Homo sapiens: one gene and its partners. Each later gene encodes a partner of the first gene's protein in a complex. Each region holds a gene or a part of one and is shown on either strand. Other genes may lie near its edges. A codon is read from its position in the direction of its gene.

Region 1 (2,659 bases):
TCACAGGCTGTAGGAATCAAAGGTTAAACAGGAAGGAGACTTCTCACTAAGGCTAGAAAGCAGACTCCATGCAACTTTGAGAGTACCTAGAGAGCCCTTGTTTAACCAAAATAGAAAGAACATGGCAAAACCCCATCTCTACTAAAAATATAAAAATTAGCCGGGTGTGGTGGCGCACACCTGTAATCCCAGCTACTTGGAATGCTGAGATGGGAGAATGACTTGAACCGAGGAGGCGGAGGTTGCAGTGAGCCCAGATCATGCCACTCCCCTCCAGCCTGGGTGACAGAGCAAGATTCCATCTTAAACAAACAAAAAAAACTCGCTAACCTGGGCATAAATTAAAACTTTGTAAATCAAGGACAAAGGTCCTAACCTCATAACCTTGTTAGGATTAAATACGGTAGCATTAAAGAGCTTAGCATATGCTGTGTGTGGCATATTATAAGCTTACAATAAATACTATATATTGCTCTCTTGTCCCTTGAATGGGTAGTCAACATTTAGTTTAAATAAAGGTAAAATTCAGTTGAAAGGTTTTTTTTTAAATTAATAAAGTCTAGGAGCTGATTCTTTATCTGTTTCCTGAATCACATTTCCACTCCTGCCAACCTCGTTTTTTTCTTTTTCTGTTTTTCTTTGTTTTTGAGACAGGGTCTTGCTCTGTCCACCCAGGCTGGAGTGCGGTGGTGCAGTCGGTTCACTACAGCCTCAAACTCCAGGGCTTAAGTGATCCTCCTGCCTCAGTTTCCCAAGTAGCCGGGACTACAGGTGTGTGCCAACACACCTAGCCTGGTTTCCCCTAATTTCATTTTCCCCCTTCCATTACAATCTATTTGTTGAAGAAATTAGATCATTTATTAAGTTTTCCAGAGTTTGGATTTTGCTGATTGCATTCCTGTGTATACATAAATTCCTCTACCCTGTGTGTCCTACAGACTGGTAGCTATAGCCCTGGAGCCTTGATATTCAGGGTGTTTTGTTTCGGGGGTGAGAGAGCAAGAATATAGGTGGTGGTGTGTGCCTCTAGTAGGAGGCACAGGGTGTCTGGATGTGTTTGCAATGTTAGCAGCTATAATAGTCATTGTCTAGATCCATTAAGTCATTAATTAGAGTTTGCAGAGCTGAAATTAATACGTTTTATTCACTTATTGGCTGCTTATTAGAAAAACTTCCATAAAGAAAAGCTTTCCCATATTATATAATTTGGTTATCTAAATTATAGCTATAGGAAAGACAAGCTAGATAATCGAGTCTTTTGCTTTATGTATCAGTCTTCAAAATTTTCATAGCTCCCTCCAAAGTGACCAATACAAGTGTTTGTGGGTTTTTATAAATATATAATGAGCTAATAGATTGCAACTTTCTTGATGTTTTTCAATGATGAATCTTTTGTTTTGTAGGTTACCATAGAGATGAATGAACCAGTTCAACTAACTTTTGCACTGAGGTACCTGAACTTCTTTACAAAAGCCACTCCACTCTCTTCAACGGTGACACTCAGTATGTCTGCAGATGTACCCCTTGGTAAGATAATAAATTTGAACCTTGTTTTGTAGGTAGTCATATGTGATACATACTCCTCAGTAATTAACCATCTTCCTGTCTTTCAGTTGTAGAGTATAAAATTGCGGATATGGGACACTTAAAATACTACTTGGCTCCCAAGATCGAGGATGAAGAAGGATCTTAGGCATTCTTAAAATTCAAGAAAATAAAACTAAGCTCTTTGAGAACTGCTTCTAAGATGCCAGCATATACTGAAGTCTTTTCTGTCACCAAATTTGTACCTCTAAGTACATATGTAGATATTGTTTTCTGTAAATAACCTATTTTTTTCTCTATTCTCTGCAATTTGTTTAAAGAATAAAGTCCAAAGTCAGATCTGGTCTAGTTAACCTAGAAGTATTTTTGTCTCTTAGAAATACTTGTGATTTTTATAATACAAAAGGGTCTTGACTCTAAATGCAGTTTTAAGAATTGTTTTTGAATTTAAATAAAGTTACTTGAATTTCAAACATCACAGGGCAGTGTCTTCATTTTGACCAGGACTGTTGGAAGTATCCTACTGAATTCCCAGCTACAGCTACCCTTTCGTTTAAATGGTTTTTCAGTTTAGAGCAGCCTGATGGAGATCAAAAGGATTTCAAATACAGTAGGTTACTAGATATTTTAGGGGATTCACTTGTCAAACTTGTTATTCCAATTTGAGCTCAAGGAACAAGTGAGAGAGTAGTACAAATCCTGTGTATTTCATTTTACTTGGCAAAAATTAATACTCTTCAGAAGCTTAATGTACCGAAAGTCGTGTGGGCTTTATAAGATGTTAATGGAGTGTTTCTTTTTAGCCTGGGGAATCTTACAAGAGTCTTGGATGTTTCAGTAGAGCTGTAATGGGGCCCAAGGAGTATGGTTGTACAAAATTTCTCTAGTATAAGTACACTTTGCAACTTCACTCAAAGGATGAAGATGTCTTAAATTCCACGGATGTTGGATCCAACCAAGAAAGTGAAAAAGCCCTGAAGTTGTGAAGAAAGACTTAAAAACATTCCCACTAATAGCTACAAGTTCACTGTGTGCTGTGTATTAAGAATTTTTTGCCAGGCACGGTGCCTCACACCTGTAATCCCAGCACTTTGGGAGGTAGGCGGATCAACTA
Region 2 (3,653 bases), on another chromosome or scaffold:
CCAGAGGCTTTGGAAGGCACCCACATCCTTGGCTACACCAGGGTGCAGTGGGTGGTTTGCTGTATGGCAAGGAATGCAGATGCCGCGGCCCAAGACGCCCCCTCCCCCCCACCCAGGAGAGAGGAGCCTGGTATGGCAGGGGCCCGCTGGGGAAGGGGCGGGCATGGGCCTCTGAAGAGGAGGGGGGAAGCCTGAGGTAACTCCAGCGAGGGATGCAGAGACGGGCCACAGGAGCTCACCTTGGCCCGGGGGCGTGAGGCTCACTGCCTGGGAGAGGGCAGCCAGCACCGACTGCTCTGCCAGCCCAAGGCGCAGCCGTCCGCTCAGGGACCTGGGGAGAGAGCAGGCCAGGGAAGGGGGCTTGTCTGCACCTCCCCAATCTTGCCTCCTCCCTTCTCTGATCTCCTCGACCTTGATGTATGTAGACCCTCTCCTCAAAAACCAGAAGAATCTTCAGAGCCTGGAAGGGACCCCAGATATCACACAGCCCCATGTGACAGATGAGGAAACTGAGCCAGGCAGTAATGATCCTGCCCACTAGCATAGACTGGGGAGGGGCACAAGTAGGTGCACCAGCACCTCCCATCTCAGCTGCCCTGAGGGGTTGGCGAGGCTTGAGGAGGATGAGTCAGGGAGAGAACTGAGCCTGGCGCCCGCCCTGGTGACTGTAATGGTCAGGACCCCAGCATGGTCCTTGCTTTGAGCCAGTGGCAGGAGACAAGTGGCTTAGTTTGCCTCCCCATGTCTCCATTTCCCCTTCTATAAACTGGAGGTGAGGGTAACAAGACCAGTCTCACAGAGTTGCTGGTAGGAACTGATGAGGTAAGGCACGGGGCACAGGGCAGGGCTCCCAAGAAATGCTCCATGATGTGAGCCCTCAATGGATTTGCTCTCACTGTCATGGCAAACAAACCCTGGCTTCCTGCTGCAGGGCCCGCGCCCAAGCCGAGGCAGACCTCACCAATCAATCACAGCATGCTTCACCCACAGGGGCCCAGGGGCCTTCTCTAGACAGCACTACCAAGGGACAGAAGCTGGCCTGTGAAAGGAAATGGTGTCCCTTCCCACTCTTTAGGGGCTGGGCCTCCTGCTCATGCTTTTCTCATCCAAGGATGGTCAGGGCATTTGTGATGATTCCAGCTGCCAGTCCCTCCCTCCTTTCACCTCCGAGCCTGCAGTCCCCCTCTGTAGCCTCACAGGCCCACACGCTTACCTAGCGATGAACCGGGCTTCTGAGTGGCGGCAGGCCACAAAGAGGCCTTTGATGATGTCTATCTTCTTGGCTGTGGACTGGAGAGTCAGGGGAAGAGCCGTCAGTGCCTGGTGAAGGCAGGGACCACACCTCCACCCCACCAGCCGTGCTGCTGCCCTGCATTTTGGAATACCTGCCCTCCTTCCCTCACCCCATCCCCATGTCCCAGCTCCCATGGCCGCCCACTCTTAGGGCAGTAAGAACGAGCTAGCTCTCCTCCTTGCCTCCCTCTCCCTTTATCCAGGAAGTATTTACTGAGTCCTGTCATGTGGCAGCCATGGCATTAGGTCTGCTAGACTCTGAAGAGGAGACTCCCCTAGGATTGGGTGCAGGAAGGAGGAGAGGAAGCTGTGCACCCCATGAGAAGGACTGATGCGACCCAGCTGATGGTCTACCCAGAAGCCTTCCTGACACACGCGTGGCCTCAGGTCCCCAAGATGTCTGGGGTCCGGGATGAGCGGCCCGCCCCACTCACAGCACTGCCAGTGAGCCTGGCGATGTCGCGGAACTTGCTGAAGACCCCGGAGGCAGTGAGCGGAGGTGGTGGCAGCATGAGCCTCTGGGTGCTGCGGCTGTTCTCGGCCACCAGCCCCACGTCGCCTTTCTCGGCTGCCTCAGCCCGGACGGACTCCAGCTGCCGACCTTCAGGGGAGAGCGCGGGTGGGGGTGTCGAGGGTGACAGTTGTGGCTGCGTGTCTCCCTTCTCTCGCGGCCTGGATGAATTTTCTCCAGCTGTGTGTGCTTGTGGCGAGTCCCTGCACCTCCCTGTGTCTAACGCTCACCCACTTGGTAGAAATGGCTTGGGGAACGTGCCCCCAGCCACGCTGGCTGTAGGAAGTCAGCAAACATGCACGTGGAGCCAGGAAAGCGGTGGATGAACGAGCATGACCACACTCAGGGGAGACATCTGGGCCGGTGTCATCAGGGCGCGGATGGGATTTAAAGCCACAGGCGGGACAAGGTCACTAGGGAAGTGAGTGTGGACAGAGCAGAGAAGGCCAAGGGACCCTTTCCTCTGGCGGGTCATGAACATCTCTGGCAGTGACCAAAGACCCTTCGGCTTGTTTTGGAGCCACCAGCTTACACACGTGGGATGTGCTCTGGCCCCACTTACTGTCCAGAGCTGGGTCCCATGGGCGCCTGGGTGTAAGAGCTGGGGAGATGGAGCCTCAAGTCACGGTGACAGCTGTGACAAGCAGCTCTCAACCTATCAGAACCAACACACCCTTGTCACCAGATACTGTGTGTCACCTCTTTTCTGGTCTGAAATAAAATGTGGAGATAACATAACCTGCCTACACCTATCGAGATAACGCCCTAACCCTAACACAGAAAAGAATGAAAGGGAAAGCAATCCGTAATGAACGAACAAGTGCGCGTTTCAGTCCACAGATGCTCAGCCGCGGCACAGAGCACATGAAGGTGGGCCTCGCGCCTGAAGCGAAACTGCCACAAATGGGAGAGCCGACAGTGTGAGCCTCACCAATGGGATGTTATCGAATCACACATCAAAGGGGACGGGATTCTCCAAAGTGGCCAACAACTCACAACAAACCCGGGACTTGGACAGCCACGGGGGCCACAAGGCGGCACGGAGAGCAGTGTGAGTGTGAACACGACCCATCAAGGGTGGAGGCATGAGACAGTGGAAGAGGCCCCAGCTGCCATGGATTGTTGGGCAGGAAAGCCAGCATCTGCAACTTCTTTTGTGAGAAAAACAGATCCTTCTTTGTCCAAGCCAATGTAGTTGGGTTTTCTGTTACCTGCAGCTCAGAGTATTCTTAACCGACCCCGTGTGTGCTGGGTCTGGTATGACGTCAGTGCTCCCGAAACACATCTTGAGTGAATGAGTGAGAAAATCTTGAGTCTCATCTCCTCTGGCTCCCATAAGCCCGTAACTCTTTCCTGATCCAAGTCAACCTTTCTCAGTCCCTCTGTCCTCTCATGAAAGCCTGAAACCCCTGCCTTCCCTAAATGTTGGTGCCCATGGCCCTAAGCCAGCTCCAGTGCTCCCAGCACATCCTCTCCCCAGGCGGATGAGAACCCACCAGTGGGTGGTCATCCCTCCTACACTGACCAGCCCGAACCCTGGGCTCTGAGCCAGACCTGGTGAGCCTCAGACCCGTTTCCAAACTTCCTGGATGGCCCTGGGGGCCCACAGATAGAGGTTGCTCATGCCTGCCCCACGCTGGGGTGATTAATGCCCCCTGCAGGTGCCTGCCCCTCACCAGGGTCCCAAGCTGCCGACGGCTTTGTCATCCATCCAGTCACCCAGGGAGATCCTGGAGGCATTCCTCCTGCCTCCTCACCCTGACATCCACTGTCTGCCAGATCTCTCCTGCCCTCTTCTCTCTTCTCTACAGCTGGGGTCCAGCTCCTCTTCCCCCTGGATGCTGCCCCT
Region 3 (3,653 bases), on another chromosome or scaffold:
CGCCACTACGCCCGGCTAATTTTTTTGTATTTTTAGTAGAGACGGGGTTTCACCGTTTTAGCCGGGATGGTCTCGATCTCCTGACCTCGTGATCCGCCCGCCTCGGCCTCCCAAAGTGCTGGGATTACAGGCGTGAGCCACCGCGCCCGGCCAACAGCTGACTTTTTGTATTTGTTTTTATTTTGAGTTAGTTATCATCCTTGAGGGATCCGGAGACTTCACATAGAAATCCGGATGCTTTTTGAAAATCCAAGATCTGTGGGTGCTGGCTCTGTGTTCCTCTCTGGTAACGCTGACGGAGCTGAGGCATAGCTGCCCTTGCAGGTAGGGCCTGTGTCCCCAGGTTTACCCCGTCCCCTACTCTGTCAGTTTCATGGCCCTGCCTGCCTTCCGTGGGCCCTGGACACTGATCTGGTAAAGTATTAAAGAGATCAGGGTCATGCCCAACACTTAGAGATTTTAAAGAACTAACAGAAGCAGCATGCAGTCTGAAGCCAGACTTTTTAGGTTTGAATTTTGGCCTAATCCTTAGGATGGTCAGATGAGTCACCCTTATCTATAGAAATGAGAGGATGAGAGTAAACACTCATAGAGTTGTTATAAAGATCAAATAAATTAGTGCATATAAAGTACTTGGCTGTTGGCGAGTGCTCAGTATCTGGCTGTTACTGTACATGGCTACCAAAGTTAAACTATTTGTACAAAAACTGGATGGAAGAGCCTGTGACAGGCGTGTAGAAAGCATAAGCAGCCAGTAGGTAGGACAAAAATAGCTTTGAGCCTGATGCTTTAGGCATTTTACACACATTATCTCAGGCTCATGGTACCCATGCAGGTGGGTGCTTTTTCTCCGTTTGCTGGGTGGAGCTCACAGTACCCACTCAGGTGGGCACTCTATCCCTGTTTGCTGGGTGCGGAGACTGAGGAGTGCTAGGAAGCAGCACACCTAGAGCCAGGAGGAGCATGAGCTTTGGATTCAGATGCATCTGGGGTCGAGTCTTGCCTCTCCTCTAGGAGAAAATATTTTGACCTGAGCCTTGGTTTCCTCTGTAGGATCGAGAGAAACAAGGTTATTATGAGGATTACATGAGGTAATTCATGGAAAGCGCTGTTATTCCCTGGCAGGTCTGGGATTTGATTCTGCCCCACTTTCCAGCCATTAAATTAGCCTGCTACTCTCTCCTGGAGTAACTGGGTCAGCGGTGGAAGGCACAGCAGGCAGTGTAGGCATTCACACATTTGCGCTGCTTGCCCTCCAGTCCCACAGGGAAGTCCCCCTGGATGCAGTGGTTGCTTTACAGGAGGGGGATTGAGTTGGGCAATCTGCCCTGCATAGCAAGCAGGAAGCTCTTGGCCCTGGAGGGAGACATTACCTCATCCTGCAAGGTTGCTCGCTACAAAAATTATACGGGGAAATGAGCTGGGTTAAGAGGAGTCAAGGATTGGCAGTCTTGGCACATCCAGCACGAGGTGTGTTGGGGCATGAGAGGTCCGTGGAGTGGTCTGCCCAGCATCTGCAGCACAAAGTAAGAGTTTCATAAGAGAGTCATTATACTTACTGAGGACTTAGTATCTGCTTGGCATTGTCTAGGTAATTTCTAGATAGCAATGTTCCTGTGAGGTTTCATCTCTGCCTGTTTTACTGATGAATAAACTAAGGCACAAAAGGTTAGATAAGTTGGCCATAGTCACATAGCAAGTGGCAGAGTCAGCAGCCTGGCTTGAGTCCATGCTCCCAGTGACTGTATTGTGCCAACAGTTGGTGAGTTTATTTGGTTATTGTGAGTTCCATGGGCACTCTGTGTTACATAAGGCCTGGCCCACATTTTAAAACATTGTTACAGAAAATTTCAAACAGGTATGTAGAATGGTGTAGTGAACTTTGACCATTTGTCTTAGTCCATTTTCTGCTGCTACAACAGAATACCATAGACTGGGTAATTTATAATGAACAGAAATTTATTGACTTATGGTTTTGGAGGCTGGAAGTCCAAAATTGAGGGCTGGCATCTGGTGAGGGCCTTCTTGCCATGTCATCCCATGGCAAAAAGGTGAGAGTTAAAGAGACAGAGTGAGAGCCCAGAGGGGGCCAGACTCATCCTTTTACAAGGACCTACTCCCTGGATAGCAGTGCTTTTATCCTCCATTCATGAGAGCAGATCCCTCATGGCCTGATCACCCCTTAAAGGTCCCACCTTTTAATACTGTTAAATGGGGGATTAAGATGCCAACACATGCTTTCTGGGGGGTACATTCAAACTGTAGCACTCTACCCAGCTTCCACAGCTGTCATAGTCACAGCCAATCGAGTGTTCTTAATACACCACCCATTCACCCTTGGTATATTTCAAGGCAAATTCCAGGCATGCCGTTTTTTTCTGTAACTACATCAGTATGTATATGAAAAAGAAAAGACTCTCTTTGAATAAACCTAGCCACAATACCATTATCTCACTTTAAGAGGTGATTAACAATTCCTTAATATCCAATATTCTGTTGTTGTTCACATTTCCCTGATTATCTTACCCCTTCCCCCTGTTTTTTACAGCTTCTTGGAGTCATTATCCAAATAAGATCCATAAGTTGTGATTGGTTGATATCTCTTAAGTCTCATAATCTTTAGATCTTTTCTCCATCTCTTTTTTCCTTGTAATTTTTTGTGGAAGAAACTGGGTCATTTGTTCTGTTGAGCCTTGCAGTCGAGATATTGCTAATTATGTCCCCATTAGACACACACCTCTGTCACCTGTGTTTTCTGTAATTTGGCAGTCAGGCACTGAAGCCTAGTCAGGTAAATGCCTGCTTATTTTCTTTGACTTACTAGTTTTAAAAATAATGAATTGGTTCCCAGGTGACCTGGGTATCATAACAGACAAATAGGCCCGCCGGGTGTTGAGGTTTCCACGCTGCAGGTGTCATCCCTACAATGCTCAAGTGTCCCTTTTTTGCCAGCGTGAACCTATTCATGTTGGCTCCTGAGTTCTGTTGACATGACCCTGGTTGTCTTTGAGTGATTTTTTGCTTTCTGGTAGAAGATATTGCAGGCTTCTCTTGTACATTTCCAGCCCCGGACCTGGAATTGGACATTTCTCCAAGAAGCCCCGTGGGAAGTGTTACTTGCTTTCAGAGGGAGATAGGAGTTAGAGACACCTCTAAAGCTGCATGAATTTGATGGTGCAGGCAGGACATACAGGATGCAGCCTGATGGGGGTGTCTCCCCTCCACCTTCAGGGCTGGTTTTCCTGCCTTAGTCCCCTCTCCCCAGGCGAGGGCCAGTGCTTTCTGAGCTTCTTTGTCTGTCCTACAAGGAGGGAAGGATGTGGGTGTGGCCAGTGCAGGGGGGTATGAAGGCTGAAAGCTATCAAAACATGGCTCTGCTGCAGGTGGAGTTGGAAGCAGTCTCCTACAAGCAAGAAATGTCTTTGATGTCTCTAATTCTATCTAAAATTCATGAAGATTTTGCTCTCTCCCTGTCTCTTTCTTTCTCTCACACACACACTGAAATAGAAATGTTCCAGTGACTCACTAGTTGGAATTACTTCCTGGTGGACACATCTCCCAGATGTGCCACATTTATTGCATTGACGAGGCAGGCACTTGCATGAACTGTCGCATTTGTACCCACCCTTCTGTGAGTTGGATGTTGCCATCTC

Evidence for each region.
Region 2: the proteins of PCNA (region 1) and LIG1 are in contact, whole or in part, in a cryo-EM structure (PDB 8B8T), measured with the Homo sapiens proteins. Residues at the interface, in NP_002583.1 of Homo sapiens: Met40, Ser43, His44, Val45, Leu47, Leu126, Gly155, Arg210, Ala252, Pro253, Lys254, Ile255; in NP_000225.1 of Homo sapiens: Ala361, Gly363, Arg364 (codon at 1,892), Ser368 (codon at 1,880), Ser388 (codon at 1,820), Thr389 (codon at 1,817), Gln390 (codon at 1,814), Arg391 (codon at 1,811), Leu392 (codon at 1,808), Met393 (codon at 1,805), Leu394 (codon at 1,802), Val432 (codon at 1,251).
Region 3: PCNA (region 1) and MCM2 share a complex: the UniProt entries of both Homo sapiens proteins name them as parts of the replisome complex.

Annotation. Positions count from the first base shown.
Region 1 is NC_000020.11:5,114,317-5,116,975, reverse strand, and holds the end of PCNA (proliferating cell nuclear antigen), read left to right. Parts: intron 1-1,403; coding exon 1,404-1,527; intron 1,528-1,613; coding exon 1,614-1,693; 3' UTR 1,694-2,023; downstream 2,024-2,659. UniProt on the Homo sapiens protein: Auxiliary protein of DNA polymerase delta and epsilon, is involved in the control of eukaryotic DNA replication by increasing the polymerase's processibility during elongation of the leading strand.
Region 2 is NC_000019.10:48,135,795-48,139,447, forward strand, and holds part of LIG1 (DNA ligase 1), read right to left. Parts: intron 1,895-3,653; coding exon 1,728-1,894; intron 1,291-1,727; coding exon 1,214-1,290; intron 332-1,213; coding exon 240-331; intron 1-239.
Region 3 is NC_000003.12:127,611,847-127,615,499, forward strand, and holds part of MCM2 (DNA replication licensing factor MCM2), read left to right. Parts: intron 1-3,653. UniProt on the Homo sapiens protein: Acts as a component of the MCM2-7 complex (MCM complex) which is the replicative helicase essential for 'once per cell cycle' DNA replication initiation and elongation in eukaryotic cells.